Linked DNA regions of Homo sapiens: regions 1 and 2 are each linked to region 3. Evidence: fine-mapped expression QTL. A gene starts in region 3. Each other region holds a variant in brackets. All regions are shown on one strand. Distances are from middle to middle. Region 1 has its middle 25 kb from the start of LYZ. Region 2 has its middle 38 kb from the start of YEATS4. Region 3 holds the start of YEATS4 (YEATS domain containing 4).

Region 1 (4,246 bases), 36 kb before region 3:
AGCAGGTTGTTTAATTTCCATGTAACTGTATGGTTTTGAGATAATAACTTGTTTATTGTTTAGAAAGGAGAGCAAACTGGGGATGGGAAGAGGAGAAGCTATCATTTATTTATTGTTTAAATGTGAATGTGCCATAGTCATCATGGTGTGATTTCAACAAAGCCACAAAGTAGATATTAATATCCTTATCTTCTGTAAGAGGAAGTTGAGTTTCATAGTGTATGAATAACTGGCCAGAATCATAGAGATTAGTGCAGCTTCTTAACCTTTATTTTGGAGAGGTTGCTTGGGCAAATATCCGTGAGGCATCTGGACCCAAGTTCATATCACTTGCAGGAACTGTGGACTCTGATGGTGTGAATTCAGCCATGGATAATCTCTTTATGGTAGGATGACTTTGGAAAGAAAAGATATTTATGCAGTTTCCATGGGTTTCATAATTCTGTATTCTGAATGGTGCCCTGTCTTTGTGTCCCGCTTTGCCATTCAGAGGTGCTTAATTAATTAAGGCCTCATTTGGCCATGTTAACAGAAAATTATGTTTTTTCTTCTACCAGTACCTTTTTATTTGATGTTCAAAGATTCCAGTGGTGCTTACTCAGTCCAGAGTATCAATCTTGTTTACTCTTACTGCATACTGAAGCTGGACAGCCCAGACAACTCAGAAAAATGAACTGTTCATTATAACTACTGCAACTGTTGCTAACCTCAGTCTTTTTTTTTTTTTTTAGACAGAGTCTCACTCTGTCACCCAGGCTGGAGTGCAATGGCGTGATCTTGGCTCACTGCAACTTCCGCCTCCTGGGTTCAAGCGATTCTCCTGCCTCAGCCTCCCAAGTAGCTAGGACTACAGGTGCCCACCACCACACCTGGCTAATTTTTGTATTTTTAGTAGAGACGGGGTTTTACCATATTGGTCAGGCTGGTCTCGAACTCCTGAGCTTGTGATCTGCCCACCTAGGCCTCCCAAAGTGCTGGGATTACAGGCATGAGCCACCACGCCTGGCCTGACCCACCACGCCTGGCCTGACCTCAGTCTTCCTTGAGGAGAGGCCAATACTGCCCTTTCACCAGCCTGGACACAGTTGCTGCTGAAGCATGTAGCTAAATATGGGCAGCCCAGTCAGATGGAATAGATTTTCTAGTTTTCTTCTCTGTTGCCAGGATGCTGATGCGTGGTGACCCCAAATCAACCACCCATAGGGCTTCAGACTGAGAATCCCTCTCTTTTAGCCTGAAAATAGAGATATCAATCCCCCCCCAACAAAGCTGGCCCCTTCCAGATGACTCTTATTTTCTAGTCCTGCCCCTGCCCTAACAGAATCTGGAAGGGCTCCCTCTTAATGGGGCTCTCAGCCTTACCCAGGCATGGTCCATCAAGATGTAGTTATGACAGGGAAAAACCAAGGCCTGGGTTATCCAGACAGAACTACTGAGAAAAAATCTTCCAGAAGCTGCTGAGATGAGAGAAAGACAGGAGTGATTATGGAAAAGACCACCACTCATGAAGCATGTAGTAATATGCCAGGAACTGAGACAATGTATTAATAATGACTTTCTGTGTTTCTGTAAGATGTCTGGTTTGACATCTTAGGAGCCCTACTGGCAGGGGAGGGACTGCTCCTTCCAGGGCTAGTTAATTCCTAGACACAGTAAATAACTTGCCTGGGAAAACACCTTTCATTTGCAACACAACAAATCCAAAGCCACACCCCCAAACCTTTGGGGGTC[G/A]TGGCTATATCTAACTATCACACACCAAGCCAATATTTGTCCTATCCTAAATCACCCCTGGGCCAGGTACCTAACAACTAGAGCCCATCCCTATAGTCCAGAGTCTGTGGAAATTATTCAAACTAGCAAATTTTAAACTATTTACTGTCTTGCTCCTTCCTTCTCATGGAAATCACAATAAAGTCTTTGAGCCATGCTTTCCTCCTGCTCCTATGCCTTCTAACTGACCCAGGTGCTTCCACATGTGGTCCTGAGTGGAATGGCATGTACCCTTCTCTAGATAACTGAATTACAATGAAATCTTCTTTCAATGACATTAGCCTCTCTCTGCAATCGCTCAGTCATCTCCAAAAGTGAAAATCCTACAAGTACAATCAAGACACATAGGCACTTTACATATGTAATCCCATCAAACTCTCACATCTTCTAGGAAACTGAGGCTCATTGAAGACCCTTCACAAGCTCCTACAGTTTTAGTGCAGAGCCAAAATTTAAGCTCAAGTTTTTTGGACTTTACAGCCTATGCTTTTTAAATTACAACACGACACTGAGTCCCTTGACCCCCCATTTGCCCTGTAAGTCCTCACCCTGGAGGGACTAGAAATCAAAAGTGTTGGATTATAATTCATCTAGGACCTTGCTATGGACTGAATTTTGTCCCCCTTCACTACACCCCCAAATTCATACGTCAAAGTCTTAACCCCCTATGTGAATATATTCGAGATGGAGTCTTTAAGTAGGTGATTAAGGTTAAATGAGGTCATAAGAGTGGAGCTCTGATTTAATAGAACTGGTACCCTTATAAGAAGAAGAAGAGATTCAGAACTCTTTCTTCACCATAGGAAGATACAGGGAGAAGGTGGCAGTCTGCAAAGCCAGGAAGAGAGCCCTTACAAGAACCTAATGATGCTAGTTCCGATCTCAGACTTCCAGCCTCTAAAACTGTGAGAAAATTAATTTCTGTTGTTTAAGCCACCCAGTCTGTGGTATTTTGATATGACAGCCCTGAGTTGACTAAGATAGCCCCTACCTCATTTCTATACCTTGGCCAATCACTTCTCTCTGAACGTTAGTTACTCATATAACCATAAACAGTTTTATTTGTAAAGGTACAATTCTCAAATTATTAAGACCAAATCTCAGTTCTGCTTCTGATTCTATTATAGAAAATCACAAAAGGGTGTCAATCTCATGCTAAAAATCAAAACAAGCCAGACATAATTTTTTTAAATGCTTCAGAGAACTGAAGGTCCAGGTATGGTGGCTACTAGGGCAGCTGAGGCCTGGAGTTCCAGACCAGCCTGAGCAAGATAGCGAGACTCTTACCTCTATAAGAAAGAAAGAGAGAAAGAAAATAAAGAAGGGACTAAAGACACAAAGGAATCTAGAAAGAAAAGAAACACAAACTCCAGAAAGTAGCCCTTATCTAGGAAAGATAAGACCCACAGCTGCTCTCATCACTGGAGCAAGAACAGGTTAGGGGAAAAAAAAAAACCATGGATGGGAATAATGAGAAATTAGCTAGTTTTTCACCAATATATAATAATGGGCTAGTGAAACAGATTAAATCCCAAAGATACCCAGCCACAGAGCAAGTCTGCATCCACTCATTCACTTTTTCCCGTGGGTCATTATACAACAGTAGTAGGTAAAAAGTTAGAAGGAGAGAAGAAAAGTTAAGAGAGATCCCCTGTTGGGGTGTGTGGAGTCTTCTGCAAGTTCATAGCTCTTTCTGGAGGCAAGGGAACAGGGAAGACGAGTGGAGAGAAATCCATCAGACGTACTCTAATGTCCAACTGTGAAAGTTGAGATAGGTCAGGAATCCTCACAAGCAATGCAGGCATTCAACTACCAAAGCCTAAAGACTTAGTAGGAAAGCTAAGAAACTCCTCTGAAACATTCTGGACCTTCATGGAGAGCAGAGAAGCTGTCCTCCAAAGGCCAGAGGGTGAGCAGCAAGGCTTCAAGAGACCTCTACACACACAAACAGGAGACTAGACTGAAAAACAAAGAAAACTCCCAGTAACCCATAACCTGACAGCTTGGCTGTGAAGCAGGAAGAGATTCCCCCAGGTGACATGGCTGGGAAGCACAGATGGATCTCTAGGATGTTGTTAATTCTCAGATCCCAGGCTCTGCTGAAGAGAAGCCCTCATTCTACTCCATAACACTTGAAGTCAGTGGTGAACAGAAACTAACTAAAACCACAACACAGTCAAACACAGCTCAACTACACATCAGATAGACTTAGTTCCATGCCAATAGCCTGACACAGAAGAGGAAGTGGATCTGGAGATGGTCTTTAATGGAAATCACCACCAAGAAAGAAATTTTTTTTTGAGATTACAGTTTTATCTCTTGTTTACTAAATGTAAATTGTGTGTTTGCATGTATGCATATATATGTGTGTGTATATATCCATATGCAAAAAAAAAAACTTGGGTCTATACATTGCACCATTTCACCATACATAAAAATTAACCCAAAATGGATCATAAACCTAAATGTGAAACAT
Region 2 (4,246 bases), 38 kb after region 3:
AATAGGCAGTTAAAGGTATGAGTTTCATCTATCTCCTGCCCCAGCCTGGACTCTCTGATCTGGCTTTTAAATTATTTTTAGTTATTTTTACTTAAGATAAATTTTAACCAATTGACCACCTAGATTTCAGTAACCTTATGTAATACGCCTCATGTCAATCCCCAACTCTAGGTAGCCCTCCTGGATCTCCACCCTAATCTGTTTACTCTTTCTCACTTTCACTGGCTATCCTGAGTTAACTGTTCTCTACCCTCAACACGGCTTCATTGCTCTTTAGTAATTCCTTAGTCTACCCTTAGTAAATTCTTTATTGTTGCTGTCTGAAAATTTCCAGTCTACTGAATCACCAGTCTGCTTATTCACTAAATGAATAGAGTCATAAAGCTGGGAGCTAATCATCTAACTTAATTCCCTCATTTGATAAGGGAGTAGAGCCATGAAGAAATTAAATGACTTTCAGAGTCACACAATCTGTTGGGACAGAGATTCAATTTTAATTCAGCATTTCCTGACTGAACAGTCATGGTACAGCTCCCCCAAAGCTTAGAGGAGAGTGTGCAAACTGGAAATCAACTGGGAAACAAACTTTCCAAGAAAGAAGAAATCTGTAAGCTGAGGTTTACTGTTACTGTTATAGTCCAATCCCTATTATTAAAATTTTGGCTCATTCTGGTTAAATCATGTTCTCATGATTAATGAGTTAAATCTGGTTAACTCATGTTCTCAAAATTAATGAGAACATGAGTTAATCTGGTTAAGTCATGTTCTCAAAATTAATGAGAATTGTCACTCCTATTTGGTTTAATTACATTCATGAATTGAAACCATGAACCTATTTACTCTTATTTTGCACATCAGCAGATGACCTCAGTTCTTACATCATTGAGATCACTGATGCTATTCAAATTGATTCTGTAAACTTCCATCCATACAAAGTTTCTCTTTGTTCTCACCAAATCCTGCTTTCTTTCATCTCCCTAAATGTTCTCACCATCTGTAATTTTAATTCCAATTTATACTATATACTACTGCGAGTTTATAGTTAGGGGAAAATAAACTTTCCTGAGCCTCAGTTTGCTGTGGTAAACATACTACCTACCTCATGGAATTCTGTTAAAGGGTAAATGACATAGCACATGTAAAAGCGTGTTGAATGGTAAGAATAAAGAAGATAATAATGCTGGCCATCTGCTAAAATCCTTGACAAAATACTAGCAAACCAAATCCAGCAACATAAAAAGGATAATAAGTCCCATTATCAACTGGGATTTATCTCAGGAATGCAAGGTTGGTTCGGCATATACAAATCCATAAGTGTAATACACTATTATGAGCTGAATTGTGTCCCTCTTCCAATTCACATATTGAGCCCTAACCCCTAGTACCTCAGACTGTGACTGTTTTTGAAGATAGTGTCAAAGAAGTAATTATAATCATTAGGTTGGGCCCTAATCTAATATGACTCGTGATATAGTTTGGCTGTGTCCCCACCCAAATCTCATTTTGAATTGTAGCTCCCATAATCCCCACTTGTTATGAGAGGGACCCAGTGGAGGTAGTTGAATCATGGGGGCTGGTTTTTCCTGTGCTGTTCTCAAGATAGTGAATAAGTCTCATGAGATCTGATGGTTTTATAAAGGGTAGTTCCCCTGCACACGCTCTCTTGCCTGCCACCATGTAAGACATGCCTTTGCTCATCTTTCACCTTCCACCATGATGTGAGGCCTCCCCAGCCATGTGGAACTGTGAGTCCATTAAACCTCTTTTTATTTATAAATTACCCAATTTTGGTATGTCTTTATTAGCAGCATGAAAATGGACTAATACAACTGGTGTCCTTGTAAGAGGAGACTAAGACACAGACACTCACAGAAGGAAGACCATATGAAGACACAGGGAGAAGACACCCATCTACAAGCCAAGGAGAGAGGCCTCAGGAGAAACTAATCCTGCCCACAACTTGATCTCAGACTTATAACCTCCAGAATTGTGGGAAAATAAATACCAAATACCTGTATGTGGTAGTTTGTTATGGCAGCCTTAATAACTAACATATAGACTATATTAATAGAACAAAGGACACAAAATACACATGATCATCTCAATAAATGCAGACAAATCATTTGACAGAATCCAATACCCGTTTATAATTAAAAAAACACTCAACGAATTAGTAATATAAGAGAACTTCCTCAGTGGGAAGCATCATACATAGTGGTAAAAGACTGGATTCTTTCCCCATAAGATTAGGAAAAAGATAAGGCTGTTCACTCTTTCCACATCTATTCAACACTGTGTGGGAGGTTCTAGCCAGAGCAATTTGGCAAGCAAAAAGAATAAAAGTCATCCAGATTAGAAAG[A/G]AAGAAGTAAAATGATCTCTATTTGGAGATGACATAATCTTGTGTAAAGAAAACCCTAAGGAATACACACACACACACAAAAAAACTATTAGAGGTAATAAATGGATGCAGCAAAATTGCAGGATGAACGATTATATACAAAAATCAATTAGTTCCATACTCCAGCAATGAACAATCTGAAAATAAAAATTTTAAAAAAATTTCATTTATAATAACATCTAAAAAAATAAAATACTTGGGAATATAACACCTAAAGTGCACTCAACCAAATAAAAAATAGACAAATTGACTGGATGCAGTGGCTCACACCTGTAATCCCAGCACTTTGGGAGACAGGGTGGGTGGATTGCTTGAGCCCAGGAGTTCAAGACCAGCCTGGGCAACATGGCAAAATCCTGTCTCTACTAAAAAAATATAAAAATTAACTGGGCATGGTGGTGTGCACCTGTAGTCCCAGCTACTTGGGAGGCTGAGGTGGGAGGATCGCTTGAGCCCAGGAGATGGAGGTTGCAGTGAGTCAGGATCATGCTACTGCACTCCAGCCTGGGCAACAGAACAAGACCCTGTCTCAAAAAAAAAAAAAAACGGCAAATTGATCTTCATCATTAAAAACTTTTGTGCTTTGGCCGGGTGTGGTGGCTCACGCCTGTAATCCCAGCACTTTAAGAGGCTGAGGCAGGTGGATCATGAGGTCAGGAGATTGAGACCATCCTGGCTAACATGGTGAAACACTGCTTCTACTAATACAAAAAATTAGCTGGGCATGGTGGCGGGTGCCTGTAGTCCCAGGTACTCAGGATGCTGAGGCAGGAGAATGGCGTGAACCCGGGAGGCGGAGGTTGCAGTGAGCCAAGATCACACCACTGCACTCCAGCCTGGGCAACAGAGTGAGACTCCGTCCCCCCCAAAAAAACAAACAAACAAACAAAAAAACTTCTGTGCTTCAAAGGACATTCTAAAAAAAGTCAGAAAAAAAAAACAAACCCACGAAATGGGAGAAAATATTTGCAACTCATATATCTGACAAGAGTCGAGTATCCAGAATATATAAAGAACTCTTACAACTCAACAATAAAAAGACAATTAAAAATTGGGCAAAAAATTTGAATACACATTTCTCCAAAGAAGATATTCAAATGGCCAATAAGCATATAAAAAGATGCTTAACATCATTTGGAAATACAAATCAAAATGATGATAACACTTCACATCCACTAGAATGGCTGCAATAAAAGAGACAGACAATAGTAAGTGTTGATGAGGATGTGGAGAAATTGAAACTCTCATATATTTCTGGTAAAAATGTAAAAAGATGCAACTGCTGTAGAAAAAGTTTCAGAGTTCCTTAAAATGTTAAACATAGAGTTACCATATGACCTCAAAATTCTTCTAGATATATACCCAGGAGAATTGAAAACATGTCCACACAAAAACTTGTGCATGAATATTTATAGGAGCATCATTCAGAATAGCTAAAATTGGAAACAATCCCCATGTCCATCAACTGATGAATGAATAAATCGAATGTGGTGTATCAATACAATGGATTATTACTCAGCAGTAAAAATGAATGATGTGCTAAACATGCAGAATGAATCTTATAAACATGCCAAATGAAAGATGCCAGACACAAAGGCCACCTACTGTATGACTCCACTTATATGAAACATCCAGAATAGGTAAATCCATAGAGACAGAAAGTGATTAGTGGTTGCCAGGAGATGGGTGGGGAAGGGAGGATGGGGAGTGACTGGGTGCAGAATTTTTTTACGTGGCGGTGATGGAAAAGTTCTTGAATTAAATAGTGGTGATCGTTACACAACCTTGTGAATATACTAAAAACAACTGACTTGTATACTTTATGGTATGTGAATTATATCTCAATT
Region 3 (4,220 bases):
CCTTTGGCTTCAAAATTCTTGGACCATTCTGACGTGATTAAACTAAAAACGAATGAGTTTATGCATATCGAGATACCCTGAGGTGTACAAAGGATGAGTCAAGGTAGCGGAGAGAGAGTTGAAGAGTGACAGCTGAGAAACAGAGATAGGACATGTCCAAGAAGTGCCAGGATAACCCAACAACACAGGCTGATTGAGGAAACTGCCAGAGATTAGACAAAGTAGACTGAAGAGGGAAAGCAATGTTTGTTGGAGATTTTGCTTTAGTTTTTGATAAATATTTCTTAGTCATACCAATTGTTTTAAATATAATTACGCCCCCAAACCAAATTTCTACTCTTATTCTGGCAACAGAATAAAAATCAATATCAATGTTTGATCATTTTCAAAGAAACTCAGTTCCTATCTTGGTTGAAATGCAGTGACATCCATATGACAATTGAGCTCTTCATGTGGCACTAATATAACTAAGCCCTGAGCACATCCCTTGCACTTCTATTTAGTGAAGTCTTTTAAAAAGTATTTTCTTTACAGTTGTTAAGTGGAATTACTAAAAATTACAATCAGCAGTATTTTCTACTCTTTTAGCTTATTTTTTAAAATATTTATCTCCATGCTTTTCAATATTACACCTATATTGCTTCTTCTTGATTTTTCCATTTTAAGATACTGACTTCCTACTATGGAAGTTAAAGATTAAGCTCTATTTCCTCCTCCTCCATCCCCATCAAGCATAGTACCCTTCTCCAAAGCCCATCCTTCTAAATGTAATTCTTTTTTTGAGGGGGAGGGGGGATCAATACTCAGTTTTTTTTTGTTTTGTTTTTTTTTTTTTTTTGAGACGGAGTCTTGCTCTGTCACCCAGGCTGGAGTGCAGTGGTGCGATCTCGGCTCAAGGCAAGCTCCGCCTCCCGGGTTCACGCCATTCTTCTGCCTCAGCCTCCCAAGCAGCTGGGACTACAGGCGCCCACCACCACGCTCGGCTAATTTTTTTGTATTTTTAGTAGAGACGGGTTTTCACCGTGTTAGCCAGGATGGTCTCGATCTCCTGACCTCGTGATCCGCCCACCTTGGCCTCCCAAAGTGCTGGGATTACAGGCGTGAGCCACCGCGCCCGGCCAATACTCAGTATTTATGTAACAATAAATACAATTACTTTCCTTTCTTGCACAAGATTTTGTTTTCCCTAGAATTAATAGCTGCATAATTCTTACAGCCGCTTAGTTTTCTGTGTACCTGTCATGAGTTAAACTCCAAACTCTCGGTCAAATCTCCTCTTGATTCAACGCCAGCTGGAATTTTGTCAATCCCATCCTTCTGAAGCAGTGTCTCCCAAAGATTTCTGACCGAATCTAATCTAGATGCGTTGCCGTCTATGCCTATACACAGCTATTGTTCCCGGAGCTCTTTCAGTATCATCTTGGGATCTTACTATTTTCTGTGTTTGTTATTTATTGTATTTCCTGCATTTCATAATTTCCTCCTTCTTGGCTTATTCCCTCATTTTGGTGGATCAGATCTACAGGATCTTCCTGGAGGTACTGAGAAAGGTAAGATAGGTACTATTTTTTGTGTGTAGTGATTTAGCACATCTGAAACTCTATTCTATTCACACACTAGATTGGTAGTTGGATGAGTATTGAAGACTAAATCGGAAGTAATTTTCCCTCAGAGTTTTGAAGACAGTGCCGTATGGCTTCCTAGATTCTAACTGAGCAATCTGAAGCCACTCTGATTCTATAGTCTGTATAACCTGGAAGGGTGTGGGATCTCTTTTTCCTCGATGTTCAGAAAATTCACAATGATATGCCTTGACGTGGATGCTTTAATATTTGTGCTGGGTGCTTAGTAGGATCTTTCAGTGTGGAAACTCATCTCCTTAACATCTGGACAACTTTTTGAAGTCATTTATTATTTCCTGCCTTTCATTTTTTTTTTGGTTTGGAACTCCTGCACTGGTCCTGTGATGTGACTGCAGCCGCCAGGCGCGTGCGCAGTGTACACTGCGTGCGCATACGCGAGCCCGTTGCGCCTGCGCGCGGTGCGGCCGTCGCCCCTCTTTTCGCGGCGTTCTCCACCTGCGCGGGCCTGAATGGCCTTCAGGAGCACAGTCGGCCTGAGGAGTTGACGGTTACTCACCGCCGTGAGCCCAAGTAACTCGCCCTCCTTCGGCTAGAAACCCTCCGCCTGGGCCCGCGCGACAGGAGCGCGGTCTCTGAGGGGAGCGGCGACCCCGCCAGCCCCGGTCTCTTTCCCTGGCGGCGGCGGCTTCTTCCGTGGGACAATATGTTCAAGAGAATGGCCGAATTTGGGCCTGACTCCGGCGGGAGAGTAAAGGTCAGTGCCCGGACCGCCCCTCTTCCGGGGTGGCTCTCCCGCCTCGGTTCCTCCCTGCGCGGCGCGGGGAGGGCCCACTGGGTTTCCTTTCGCGCCTTTTCTCCTCGGGTTTGAACCGTGGTTTCAGGTTGGAGAGCGAGTCAGAGCCATTGAGCGAAAAACCGGCGTTCATTGGGCCCCAACTTCCTCGCGTCACTGCCAACTCCCACCCCCGCCAAAAAACAAACAGATAAATGGTGGCTTGGGGAAACCCGGACGTGGCTGCCAAGGAAACGGGCGACTCCGAGGGCTGGGAAAGCTCAGCTTGGTGCACATTCGCTGCCAATCTAGGTTATTGGTGAAGCGGTGACGCCACCCTCCTGGTGTGAGGATAACAATAACTGTAGCAAACAGTCGCTGAGCGCTTACCCGCAGTATTTCCAAGTGCGGTAACTGAGACACCGAGGCATACGAAAGCTAAGAAAATTTGCTGGAGTTCATGGTGTTCACAAAGCCTCAAAGCAAGAGCATAACACTGTGCCTGGCACATGGGGAACATTCAGTAAATGTCAACTTCTTTTGTTTTTGATGAAATTACCATAGACCCTAGCGTAATGTTTGACATTGTAATATTTATTTCCCTCACACAGCCCCTGGCACGTTAATTTTTTTTTTTTTTTGAGACGAAGTGTCTGTCTTGTTGCCCAGGCTGGAGCGCAATGGCACGATCTCGGCTCACTGCAACCTCGGCCTCCCAAAGTGCTGGGATTACAGGCGTGAGCCACCGCGCCCAGCCGTGGTTCATTCTTTTTAAAGAAAAATTTCCTTTCCTTTATAAATAAAAATCAGAAGGGGTACAAATAGTTGTTTTTATCAGGAGCCAGTGGGTCCTGCCTTAAAAATTAACGTGCAGGGCCGGGCAAGGTGGCTCACGCCTGTAATCCCAGCACTTTGGAAGGCCGAGGAGGGTGGATCACCTGAGATCAGAAGTTCAAGACCAGGCTGGTCAACATGGTGAAACCCCGTCTCTACTAAATATACAAAAATTAGCCGGGCGTGGTGGCGGGCACCTGTAATCCCAGCTACTAGAGGGGCTGAGGCAGGAAAATCGCTTGAACCCGAGAGGCGGAAGTTGCAGTGAGCTGAGATCGTGCCACTGCACTCTAGCCTGGGCGACAGAGCAAGACAATGTTTCTTTAAAAAAAAAATAGCAATAATTAGTAGGTTTTAAAATACTTATGTGTGTGTGTGTGTGTGTGTGTGTGTGTTTTGTTTTGTTTTTTTTTGAGACGGAGTTTTGCTCTTGTTGCCCAGGCTGGAGTGCACTAGCGCAATCTCGGCTCTCCGCAACCTCCACCTCCTGGATTCAAGCGATTCTCCTGCCTCCAAGCGATTCTCCTGCCTCAGCCTCCTGAATAGCTGGAATTACAGGCATGCGCCACCATGCCCAGCTAATTTTGTATTTTTAGTAGAGACGGGGGCTTCTCCGTGTTGGTCAGGCTGGTCTCGAACTCCCGACCTCGGGTGATCTGCCCGCCTCGGCCTCCCAAAGTGCTGGGATTACAGGCGTGAGCCACCGTGCCTGGCCGCTTTTCTTCATTTTTATTGTTGTTGGTTACATTCACTCAGCACTTTTCACATGTGGTAAATCTTGCTCATTGTTCTTCAGATACATTTCTGTAACTGAGCCATTGGTTTCAGATTCATGTGCAACATTCAATATTTTCACTTCAATTGAAATTTTTTATCTTTCCAACATAATCTGTCAATACGCACTGCCTTTGCACTTATCAGATATAAGAAATATGTATGTTAAACTAAGGACAAATGTAGCAAACATGTCATCAGCCACTATTTACCAAGCTTCAGTCATCCAAGTGACTCTTGGCCATTTTTGCCATGTC

What was found. PIP is the estimated chance that this variant, and not a neighbour inherited with it, causes the effect. A credible set is the group of variants that fine-mapping cannot tell apart.
Region 1: its variant is the best candidate, but not a certain one, in a credible set for the expression of YEATS4 in subcutaneous fat (GTEx, PIP 0.67).
Region 2: its variant is the best candidate, but not a certain one, in a credible set for the expression of YEATS4 in whole blood (INTERVAL, PIP 0.57).

The regions. Positions count from the first base shown.
Region 1 is chr12:69,321,333-69,325,578 of GRCh38, forward strand. No RefSeq gene overlaps it. Among named protein-coding and RNA genes, the nearest start is that of LYZ, 25 kb to the right of the region's middle. The variant G/A (reference allele first, on the strand shown) is at 1,732.
Region 2 is chr12:69,395,885-69,400,130 of GRCh38, forward strand. It overlaps a transcript of YEATS4 not described here. Among named protein-coding and RNA genes, the nearest start is that of YEATS4, 38 kb to the left of the region's middle. The variant A/G (reference allele first, on the strand shown) is at 2,361.
Region 3 is chr12:69,357,687-69,361,906 of GRCh38, forward strand. It overlaps YEATS4 (YEATS domain containing 4), which reads left to right and starts at 2,057. Exons shown (of 7, transcript NM_006530.4): 1 at 2,057-2,337. The coding sequence starts at 2,287. RefSeq lists enhancers at 1,801-2,404, 1,962-2,151, 2,405-3,006 and a silencer at 2,432-2,591.